Regions from separate parts of the Homo sapiens genome. Here region 1 is linked to region 2. Evidence: fine-mapped expression QTL. A gene starts in region 2. The other region holds a variant in brackets. All regions are shown on one strand. Distances are from middle to middle. Region 1 has its middle 4.8 kb from the start of SNORA48B. Region 2 holds the start of MXRA5 (matrix remodeling associated 5).

Region 1 (5,374 bases), 190 kb before region 2:
AACTCCTGACCTCAAGTGATCCACCCACCACGGCCTCCCAGAGTGCTGAGATTACAAGCGTGAGCCACTGCACCCGACCTCTGCTTATAATTTAAATGCTGGCTAATGAAAATATTAAGGGGGGTGGGGGTAACACAGAAAAAAAAATCTACTTGTTACAATCCTTTGAACTGTAAATAAGTGTTAGACTGCCTTTGCACTATTATAGATCAGGTTCTTACAAGCAATGGTGTTTCTGCTTATTGCTTGTGGAAACCTGGCCAAATTCTCTAATCTCTCTGAACTTCCATTGTCTTATTTGTTAAGATGAAGATGAGAATAGTGCCCATCTCCTGGTGATGGTGCGGGTTATGGGATGTGTTTCATCTTAAGAGCTTAGTAATGTCCCTTGAAGATATTGGGGAAACCCAGTGCCTTGTTCTCTCTTTTTGCCCCTCATCTTCTATATTTTGACACTGTTGTCTTGTTCAGGTAAGTAAGTATGCCTTTGTCAAAATTCTTCATAGATAAAAGCCTTTTTAGGTCTCAGTTTCTGGGACCAGATGACAGAGTTCCCACGGCTTGGATCTTGACTCCACAAAAATGTCCCCTCTTTACTAACTACCATCAATGAGTATTCATGTGGACCCACTGAGTCACCACCCTGGTCCTAGGTCCTGCTCTCTCCATTCCACTATAAGCCCCACTGTCTGATTTTCATGGTAGACTCTGAATCTTGGTGACCTGTCCACTGTATCCAACCTCTTATCTCCCGAGTCCAGCCCTCACTTCATGTTTGTGTCATTGTTGAGTGGGGTGATGGGGCTCTACACTGCTCCGGCCGCCTACCCTGATTCTGCTGCTCACTCTAGGCAGTTGAGGCCAAACTTGACCAGCACTACAGCCAAGAAAATGCACCAAATTCTTTGAGTGGTGTTAGATTTCACATGCTGTTTTTCACAATGGAAGTTGGGCTGAACACACGCTTTTATATGTCAACATATAAAACATTAGGCATTTATTTAAAAAGTAGCCATAGAAATGAAAGTATGTATGTACTATCTATTGATCTATCTATCTATCTATCTATCTATCTATCTATCTATCATCTCTCTATATTATCTATCATCTTTCTATCATATCTATCATATGCATTTATCTATCATCTATCTATCATCTAGCTATCGTTATCATCTATCATATCTATCTATTGACTATCATTTATCATCTTCCTATCATATCTATCTACCTGTCATCTATTTGTTTATCATCTATCTGTCAGGCAGTCATCTATTATCTTTCTGTCAGTCATCTATCTAGCTATCATGTCTGTCACCTATCAATCATTTTATGTATTGTCTACATATCATCTCTATCATCTGTTATTGTATTATTCTATTACCTATTAACCTATCATTTTATCTATCATCTATCTACTTACCTTACCTATCATGTATCGTCTGTTAATCTACTATTTTATTATCTATCTTTCTATCATATTATTCTTTTTTTTCTTTTTTCTTTCTTTTTTTTTTTTTAGATGGAGTCTCACTCTGTCACCGAGGCTGGAGTGCAGTGGCACGATCTCAGTTTACTGCAACCTCCACCTCTCAAGTTCAAGCAATTATCCTGCCTCAGCCTCCCGATTAGCTGGGATTACAGGCGTGCGTCACCACACCTGGCTATTTTTTGTAGTTGTATGTGTATTTTTTAAATCTTTTTTTTTTTTGGCTTTAAGGAGCGGAGAGTTTAATAGAAAGAAAGAAGGGAGAAGAAAGATGGAAGAAGCTCCCCTGTGCAGAGACAGAGGGAGGGGGCTCCAAAGCCAAGAGAGGAGACCCCATGTGCCAGGGAAAAGCGGCTGCTTATATTATTTTTTGTATTTTTAGGAGAGACGGGGTTTCGCCATGTTGGCCAGGCTGGTCTTGAACTCCTGATCTCTGGTGATCCGCCCGCCTCAGCCTCCCAAAGTGCTGGGATTCCAGGTGTGAGCCACCATGCCTGGCATATCTATCATATTATAGCGAATATATGACAGCTGTGCTGTAAAGAGGAATGGAAATAGACACAGATTGGCTCACAGATCAGCATCCGAAGTGAATCCTTTTTGTTAAATGCTAAACTATAGATCTTACTAATTATTCAGTCATTCTTTGGATATTTATTTTGCAAACTGAATTTGTAAAATTCTATCTGTGTTACCTTAATTATTCATGTTATGACTCTGACAACTTGCTGTGTTCCTTACCTTGAATTTTAGCCACATTCCAAGAGTTAACTTTACCCTTTCCATGTATACAAGGTTTCTCCACTTCTTATTCTCCTATGCTCAGCACACATTTACTTTGAAGCAAACCCTACCTGCTTAATTTTTTCTTTAAAGTGAAATGTCACTGGTTTATTCACCAAGTAGTCTTCTGAGGGCTAAAGAAAACTACTTCTTTCTTCTTTGTAATATTTTTGTCCACAAGGCATTCTAAACATCAGTCAGTCTGCAACAGTGGTTCTTTCTCTGAACACTCAACATGTTTAAGCACTGTCATATGAACATGGTCACAAATATTATTATGCCATCAAATGGAGGACAATGTAATGCTTTAAGATTTAAATAGGCTTTAAAATCAGCATGGCCAGGTGCAGTGGCTCACACTTGTAATCCCAGCACGTTGGGAGGTTGAGGTGGAAGGACCACATGAGCACAGGAGTTCTAGACCAGCCTGAGCAACATAATCAGACCTCATCTCTACTAAAATGTTTTGAAAAATAAGCAGGGTGTGGTAGTGCACACCGGTTGTCCCAGCTCTTCCGGATGCTGAGGTGGGAGGATCACTTGAGCCTAGGAAGTCACTGCTGCAATGAACTATGACTGCACCACTGCACTCCAGCCTGGACAACAAAGCAAGAACCCAGCTCTATAAACAAACAAATAAATAAATAAATAAATAAATAAATAAATAAAATCCATTACCTGAAACATTCAGATAACAGTCATCAAAACAGTAAATACCTTTTAGAAAAACAAATTCTGTTCTATATAATTAATTAATGTGTTTATTTTGAGACAGGGTCTTGCTCTGTCGCCCTGGCTGAAG[T/C]GCAGTGGTGCAGTCGTAGCTCACTCCCGGGCTTAAGCAATCCTCCCACTTCAACCTCCTGAATAGCTGGGACTACAGGTGTGAGCCACTGGGCCTGGCTGACTCTATTATTTTATTGAGAATCCTAAAGTGGTTGCCATGGGCTGCAACGTGGGTCTCCCCTGTCCCTAGATGTTCATGTCCTGATCTCAGAAACCTGTGAATCTTTTACATTACATGGCAAACAGGACTTTCCAGATTAAGGCTCTTGAGAGGGGAGATTATTCTGGATTATTCAGATGAGCTCAGTGTAACACCAAGCTCCTTGGAAGAGGGCAGCAGCAAGGAGTCGAAGACATGCGATGAAGAAAGCAGAGAGAGACAGACAGAGACAGAGAGACAGAGAAAGAGAAGGAAAGACAGACAGAGACAGAGAGGGACACACAGAGACACACACACACACACACACACACACACACACACACAAAGAGAGAGAGACAGAGACACAGAGACAGAGAGAGACAACGAGAGTTGGAAAAACACAAAGACAGAGAGAGACAGAGACAGAGAGACAGGAAGAGACAAAGAGACACAGGGAAAGAGAGACAGAGAGAAAGAGAGACAGAGAATGGGAGACAGAAAGGCAGAGAGAGGGAGACAGAGGCAGAGGCAGAAAGAGAGACAGAGAGAGGCTGAGACAGACAGAGGCACAAGGAGAGATAGAGAAGAGAGAGGCAGAGACAGACAGAGAAGGGGGAAGTGAAGCAACACTCCTGGTTTTGAAGACAGAGGAAGGAGCCATGAGCCAAGGAATGCAGGCAGCCTCTAGAAGTCAGAAAAAAGCAAGAAACGATTTCCCTGGAGCCTCCCAAAGACAGCAGCCCTGCTGACCCATTTTAGATTCTGACCTCCAGGGTGACTGGGGATGTGTGAGGAGAAGGGAGCAAGGGACAGGAGACCCAAACTCCACAGTGAACAATTGGCTTGCTTGGGAGTGAGCCTGCAGAGGAGTGTGCACTGCTTTTCTAGAAGCTGGTGTTCGTGGCTCACAAATCTTCCTTGACCAATCTCTAAGCTGTCATCTCTAAGCTCTCATCAAGTCGGTTATTCCATGGCATTTGGAGCAGAAACTGGCATTTGATAACTGAAGTCCATTCTCTCGCTCGCTCGCTCGCTCGCTCTCTCTTTTTTTTTTTAGACACAGTTTCACTCTCATCGCCCAGGCTGAAGTGCAGTGGCGCAATCTTGGCTCACTGCAAGCTCCGTCTCCTGGGCTCAAGTGATTCTCCTGCCTCAGCCTCCCAAGTAGCTGGGTCTACAGGTACCTGCCACCACACCCAGCTAATTTTTTTGTAGTTTTTGTAGAGACAGGGTTTTGCCATGTTGCCCAGGCTGATCTTGAACTCCTGGCCTCAAGTGATCCTCCCGCTTCAGCCTCCCAAAGTGTTGGGATTACAAGCCTGCCCTGAAGTCCTTTCTCAAGTGAATTCAAATTTGTTTTGAGGTGGTAATGTTCCAAACTTAACGAGCAAACTATAGTTGCTAGCCTCTCATTCAACTAGTTGGGGCCAAGTAACTAAGTTCAATAGGATTGCAGTAGAAATGTCGTGGGACATTTAGGAAGACTGCAGAGAAAGAGCTAATTCACTTGGCGCAGAGGCCATTTTGTTCCTCACTGCTCCCTCATCTGCTTTCTGGGATGTAGATACAATGGCTGGAGCTTCAGCATTCACACTGAGACATGAGGCAAACTTGAAGATGAAAGTCATGTATTAGGGTGGTAGAAGAGATAAAAGGAAGGAATCTAGTTCCTGAGCATCTTGAAGCCAGATTTTTTTTGGAACATTCTTGTTCCAAGTTGTCTGTAGCTTTCAGTTTTGTTGTTTTTACTTTTGCCTTTTCTGAACCTGAGATTCATCTGTTATTAATTCTCTCAAGAACAACTACCTGGTGCATCTTGCTGAAATATGTGGCTGTCAGTGAATACATACTGTCTCCTTTCTAAAAGTCTTACTCAGTTGTGATTTTTATTTCATAGTCACCATGCTTCTCTAGTTTATTTGCTCTAGATAGTGAACTACTAGTGCAAAGTTGTTATTATTGGAAGAAACCAAAATTTCTATGTTTTAACCCCAAATAGGATCATGTAATTCTTAGTTTATTGAACCCTTTGGTAGATGAATGTGAACTTATTCTACTGATGCACCCATCTGTTTGCATGCATGTTTGGAGTCAGGGGTAAATGAAAAGAGATTCTCCTTCTCTTCCTAGAGCTCTTGGTCACGCTGCCCCAGGGACTGAGCATGAGCATGGAAAGTGTGAGA
Region 2 (5,374 bases):
GTAGAGATAGGGTTTTGCCAGGTTGCCTAGGCTGGTCTCAAACTCCTGGACTCAAGCAATCCTCCCGCCTTGGCCTCCCAAAGTGCTGGGATTACAGGCGTGAGCCACTGCGCCTGGCCAAATCTAGACATTTCTTAATAGAATTCAACGTCAGTCATGCGCACATTCATTCATTCATTCATTCAATTGAACGCTTAGTGTATGCTAAGCTCTGTGCTATACTCCAGGTGTCAAGAAGCTATGACGGCATAAAAAGAAGGTGAGTGATTGTCCACAATGCAGGAAAAAAGCCCACTTTAGCAATGGGCATGGAGGTAAGGAAATACTATACAATGGAGATTGAGGAGAACTTTGTCAAAACAGTGGCGTGAACCAACAACAACAAAAATCAGGGATGTGCTACTTGTTCTTGACAAGCCAGATCTATCACCAAAAGGAAGATCCCAGGGACAGGCTGGGAAGCACAGGGCATGGCACAGGCCACCCATGGAAAACTTCAGCCTTGGGTTTGAGGATGATGGCATCCCTCTAAGTCTCAGTGATGGGCTGGAAGGGATGAATGAGAAGGAGTTGGTGGAGGAAGAAGTTGTCAAAATCTAAGACATATCCATGCAACCGCAGTGAGAGAGGTGGAGAGAAGAACACGTTGGGCCAAGAGATTCTTAGGCATCAGGATCTAAACTTGGCAACCAGTTGACTATGAGGAAGACATGAAGGAGAGGCAGAAGGCAAGGATGGCTTGAGTTTCTAGTTTAGCTGACGAGATGGGTGGCAACATCATTAACAAGGGTAAAGAGATGTTCAAGAGACAGTTGTTTTTTGTTTTGTTTTGTTTCGTGATTTAATCAATGGGTTTGGGGCATGCCCAGAAAGAGGCTACCTAAGGGCATTATTTGACTAATCCCTGGAACTATGTCAACACACACTGAAAACTAAAGCTAGAGAAGGAATGAATTCCCATTTATGAACCAGTATTTCCTGACTATCAACTCTGTGGAAGCCACCCTAGGCGCAGGAGGCAGGTGGTGAGGAATTCCTAGACGCTGTGTTTCTTAGGAGGAGCTAAGATGAACCACGCTTCATGCAGGGGAAGCAACTTGTTTCTTAGGCTTAGTCCTTCCTTCCTCCTGAAAGCCCCCTGACAGAGTGCTGGACGTAGGGCAGGACTTCTGAATCTAAAGAGCAGGCACTTCTCAATTATACTTTCTCCATGCATTGCCTTTTAAAAGCTGCATGCCTGCTGGGCTGGGTGGCTCACGCCTGTAATCCCAGCACTTTGGGAGTCCGAGGTGGATGGATCACTTGAGGCTAGGAATTCGAGTCCAGCCTGAGCAACATAGTGAGACCCTGTCCGCACCAAAAAAAAAAAATTAGCCCAGCGTGGTGGCGCAAGCCTCTAGTACCAGCTGCATGGGGGACGGAGGTGGAGAATCGCTTGCGCCTCGGAGGCAGAGGTTACAGTAAGCCGAGATCGCACCACTGGCACTCCAGCCTGGGCAACAGAGCGAGACTCTGTCTCAAATACATAGATACATATATACATACATACACACATACATAAATGCCGCACGCCATCAGCCTGCTTCAGGGGCATCTCAGCAGACAGGATTCGTTGTACAAGTACATGGTACCACTGGGCTTGTAAAAAAAATTTTTTTTATACTCACAGATGTCTTTTGTAGATCAAAGAACACAACAGGCAAACACTGACCCTAAGGACATGTCAAAATGCTGGTTCAGGGAGAGGAATACGGCTAACCAGAGGTATAGCGAAAAGCAGTCGCTGGTGCACCCTACAACAAGCTGGTGCAATGGTGCCTTTCCGGGCCCTACACACCTGTCTGAGCTCCATGTTTTTACCCCAGGTTGGCTCTGCTGACTGAAGATACTCGCCTGACCTCTCCCCACCATTCCAGGTCTGACTTATCCAGGAAGCCAGGCAGCCGCCGCCTCCTCTTCCTCTGCCTCCTGGAATAGGGACCTACCCTCTGCACCCTCTACTTTTTGCCTTGTCGCCAGGTCGCTCCCACCCTCCCACCGCCCCCTCCCCAGACAATACCATCAGACTCTCCGAACGTCCCAACCCTCGCCTTGCCCCTCGAATGCTCCCCAAGCCGGAGGGGAGCCGTTCCACCTTTCTGGCAGGAAGACTCTGGCAAGGGGAGGGAGGCGGGCGCCGGGGAGTCCTGGAGAGGCGGGAGGGCGTGGCGGCGGCTCTCACGTTGCAGCCCTGCCTGCAGCTAGTGGGATGCCGGCGGGGCCAGCCCGCTCCTGCTTGCACACGGTCTGGGAAGAGCTGCCGAGAAAACACCGTCTGGCCCGGAGAAGCGCAAACCCTGCTCCTTCTCTCTCTCCTGAAAGGAACGGAAACGTTCCCAGCGCTGCTTAGGCGCTCTCCAAGCGCGGACTCTACTGCGGCTCCCACCGCGCTCCCTGCATCTCGCCCTTCCCTCCTGGGGTCCTGGACTTCTCTCTGACAAAGAGCCCTCCTTCCCCGAGCCGCCTGCGGTTCTTGCAGCTGGAGTGGGCGAGGCATGCCCACCCGGGCCCAGGCGCAATGAAGACGCGAGAGGAAGGCTGAGCGCAGAGCGGCGCGGCCAGGGTCCCTTGGCTCGGGCCCGCGCCCCGTCTCCCCGGGGTGGGGCAGGGTGGGGGTGTGCCGAGGCGTGGACTTGGGGAAGCCTCGCAGCGCCGGGAATAAAAGGGCGCCGGCTTGCTGTGCCGCGCTGGGAAGCCGAGCTGCCTCACCCCCGGCCCCGGGAAGGGCATGGCCCCGGCAAACTCCCGGCCGTGACTCGCGCGCCCCGGCTCGGTGGATGCTCCCGGCGCACCGCTCCCGTGTGCGGCGGCTTCCCAAGGACAGGTGAGGACCCAGGGTGGCCAGGGCGCCCCAGGGCTGCCGTGTCTGCCTGCAGGGGGTGAAGGGATTTGAGACACCCAAGGGAAACACTGGGGGTAAAGGGCCTGCATGCAGGCAGATTGCACCGTTCCCCAGCACTGTTTGAAGTTGCTAAGAAATCAGGATACCTGAATTCCTGCAATTTTAAGTAGCTAAGGATCAGATAGGGAGGAGAGCCGGATCTTGAAGGAGGATGCACTGAATAGGTCTAATTAAGCCCAGACATCCCATGCCTCCTTTCCTCCCTCTCCCCAAAGCGCTCCCCATCCCTGGCTCTCTCTGGAGACCTTCAACCCCGCCATCCCGCGTTTCTAGGAAGCTGCCAACGGAATTCCTAAGTGAAGCCCACTCTGCTCTTGCAATCGGTGGGGGAAAGGACGCTTGAGGAGCCTCTTTCCAAGTTGCTCAGGCTGTGGCTACTTCAAGTCTCCTCTCCCTCCTCTCTTCCCCCTCTCCTTCCCCGCCTCTTTCCTCCTACTCTTACCCAGGCTTTCCCTGGAAAGGGGACAGCCCAACGCCTAGAGTGATCCGAGCCATGCAAAAAAACCGGGACAGTCATCACGCAGACAAAAGGGGTTTGGTGTCCGAGTCCCGGGCGGCGGGGACTCGCAGGGCCACCCCAGCCGCGTTCCGGGAAAGCTCGTAATTCATCCCGCAGCCAGCTCGACGCGACCCAGCGGACTCTGGAAGCCGGCCAGGGGCTCAGGGCTGCCCGCCCGGCCACTCCAGGTTGTCTGCCCAGGGCCAAGACGAAAGCAGACGGCCTCACGCCCCCACCCCTGCTTCCCGGCGGGGTTCGCAGACCGTCTCTGGCGGCCTAGCTGGCGCCAGGCCGCTTTCTCCGCGGCGGAGAGACCCGACCCCGAGTCCCCGGGATTAGGGTTGTCTGGGGGCGAGTTTCCTGGGTCTCCCGGGAGGTTGGTGCCGGGGTGGGAGGCCGGACAGGGAGTTGGGGCTGAAGAGTCCTATGGAACGCCCGGGCCAAGTCCGCCCGCAGGCACAGGACGCTGGGGACTGGCGCGGCTGCCCTTGGAACCAGCCCAGCGCCGAGGTCAGGCGCGCAGGCAGGGGCGGGGAAAGCCCGGGCTCTGGCGAGAGAGAAAACTCCGAGGACTTTTGCAGAGCTGCAGGAGCCGGTTTGTTCCAGCGCCCAGAGGCGGAGCCCGGACTTGCTTTTTTGCAAAACTACCTGTGCGCCATCAGTTCTTTATGGGCAGCTGAAGGGAGACGCGCCCCCGGGCTTAAGAGAATAACCTTTTCTAGGTCACTTAAAGGCAGGAAAAGCTACAGGTTTGGGATGTTCCTCTCTTATAGGAAGGATTTTAGAATTTTATTTTTATTTTTTGAGACGGAGTTTCGCTCTTGTTGCCCAGGCTGGGGTGCAATGGCTCGATCTCGGTTCACCGGAACCTCTGCCTCCCGGATTCAAGCGAATCTCCTGCCTCAGCCTCCCGAGCAGCTGAGATTATAGGCATGCGCCACCACGCCCAGCTAATTTTGTTTTGTTTGTTTGTTTGTTTGTATTTTTAGTAGAGACGGGGTTTTTCCATGTTGGTCAGGCTGGTCTCGAACTCCTGACCTCAGGTGATCCGCCCGCCTCGGCCTCCCAAAGTGTTGGATGACAGACGTGAGCCACCGAGTCCGGCCTGGGTTTTAGAATTTTAATCAGCAGTTCGCGCTCGTTCAGAACCCGGGCGAATGGGCAGGCGCGTGTTTGTTGTGTATCCCTATTTACTTTCCATGTGTGTCACTATTTTTAAGTGAACGCCATTCAAGAGATGACAAAAATGTTAGATGACATAGGCATTGCCAGGACAAGAAGAAAATGATCACCGCCATTCTAAATGAAGTAGCTGATGCAATCTAGCTTTACCCGAGCTTTTCCATTTTTTAGTGACTCCATTTTTTTCTGTTTGCCTGAATATATTTCATAAGCAGTCCCTTCCTGTTTATTGAATGATCAGAGGTTCCCCCAAACTTCCTCCCCGATTAACAGCAACTCTATATCATCAAAAAAACTCTCTGGCTTTTCCAAGACAAAAACATAAGGATAGTAAATAAACCCAGAAATAACAGGATGAATATCCTTCTAGCAAATACCTCTTTAAGCTCTTCAAGAAGCTAGAATTAAAGGTTTGAAAAATATCATTAAAGGAAAGAATACGAATAAACACTTCTTGGGAAGTTTTAAATTCAAATATATGCAATATATAATGGCTCAGTCTTGTTGGAGGCAGAAACACAATATTTTATTATTTTTTAATTATGGATACATAAATATAAACCTCTTTCTTCTCTCTCTCTCTCTCTCTCTCTCTCTCGTCTCTCTCTGTTTCATAGCCGCAATTACAGAGTGCAAGATAGATTTCCAAATCATAGTATCGAAGCCAAGAATCAAGACTATATTCTATAGTCATGATTAAAGTGAATGGTGAAAAGTTTAGAAAAAAAACCATGTTTCATCTTTCTCAATTC

Evidence for each region. PIP is the estimated chance that this variant, and not a neighbour inherited with it, causes the effect. A credible set is the group of variants that fine-mapping cannot tell apart.
Region 1: its variant is the best candidate, but not a certain one, in a credible set for the expression of MXRA5 in nasal epithelium (TOPMed, PIP 0.54).

What each region holds. Positions count from the first base shown.
Region 1 is chrX:3,534,378-3,539,751 of GRCh38, reverse strand. No RefSeq gene overlaps it. Among named protein-coding and RNA genes, the nearest start is that of SNORA48B, 4.8 kb to the right of the region's middle. The variant T/C (reference allele first, on the strand shown) is at 3,072.
Region 2 is chrX:3,344,004-3,349,377 of GRCh38, reverse strand. It overlaps MXRA5 (matrix remodeling associated 5), which reads left to right and starts at 2,726. Exons shown (of 7, transcript NM_015419.4): 1 at 2,726-2,863.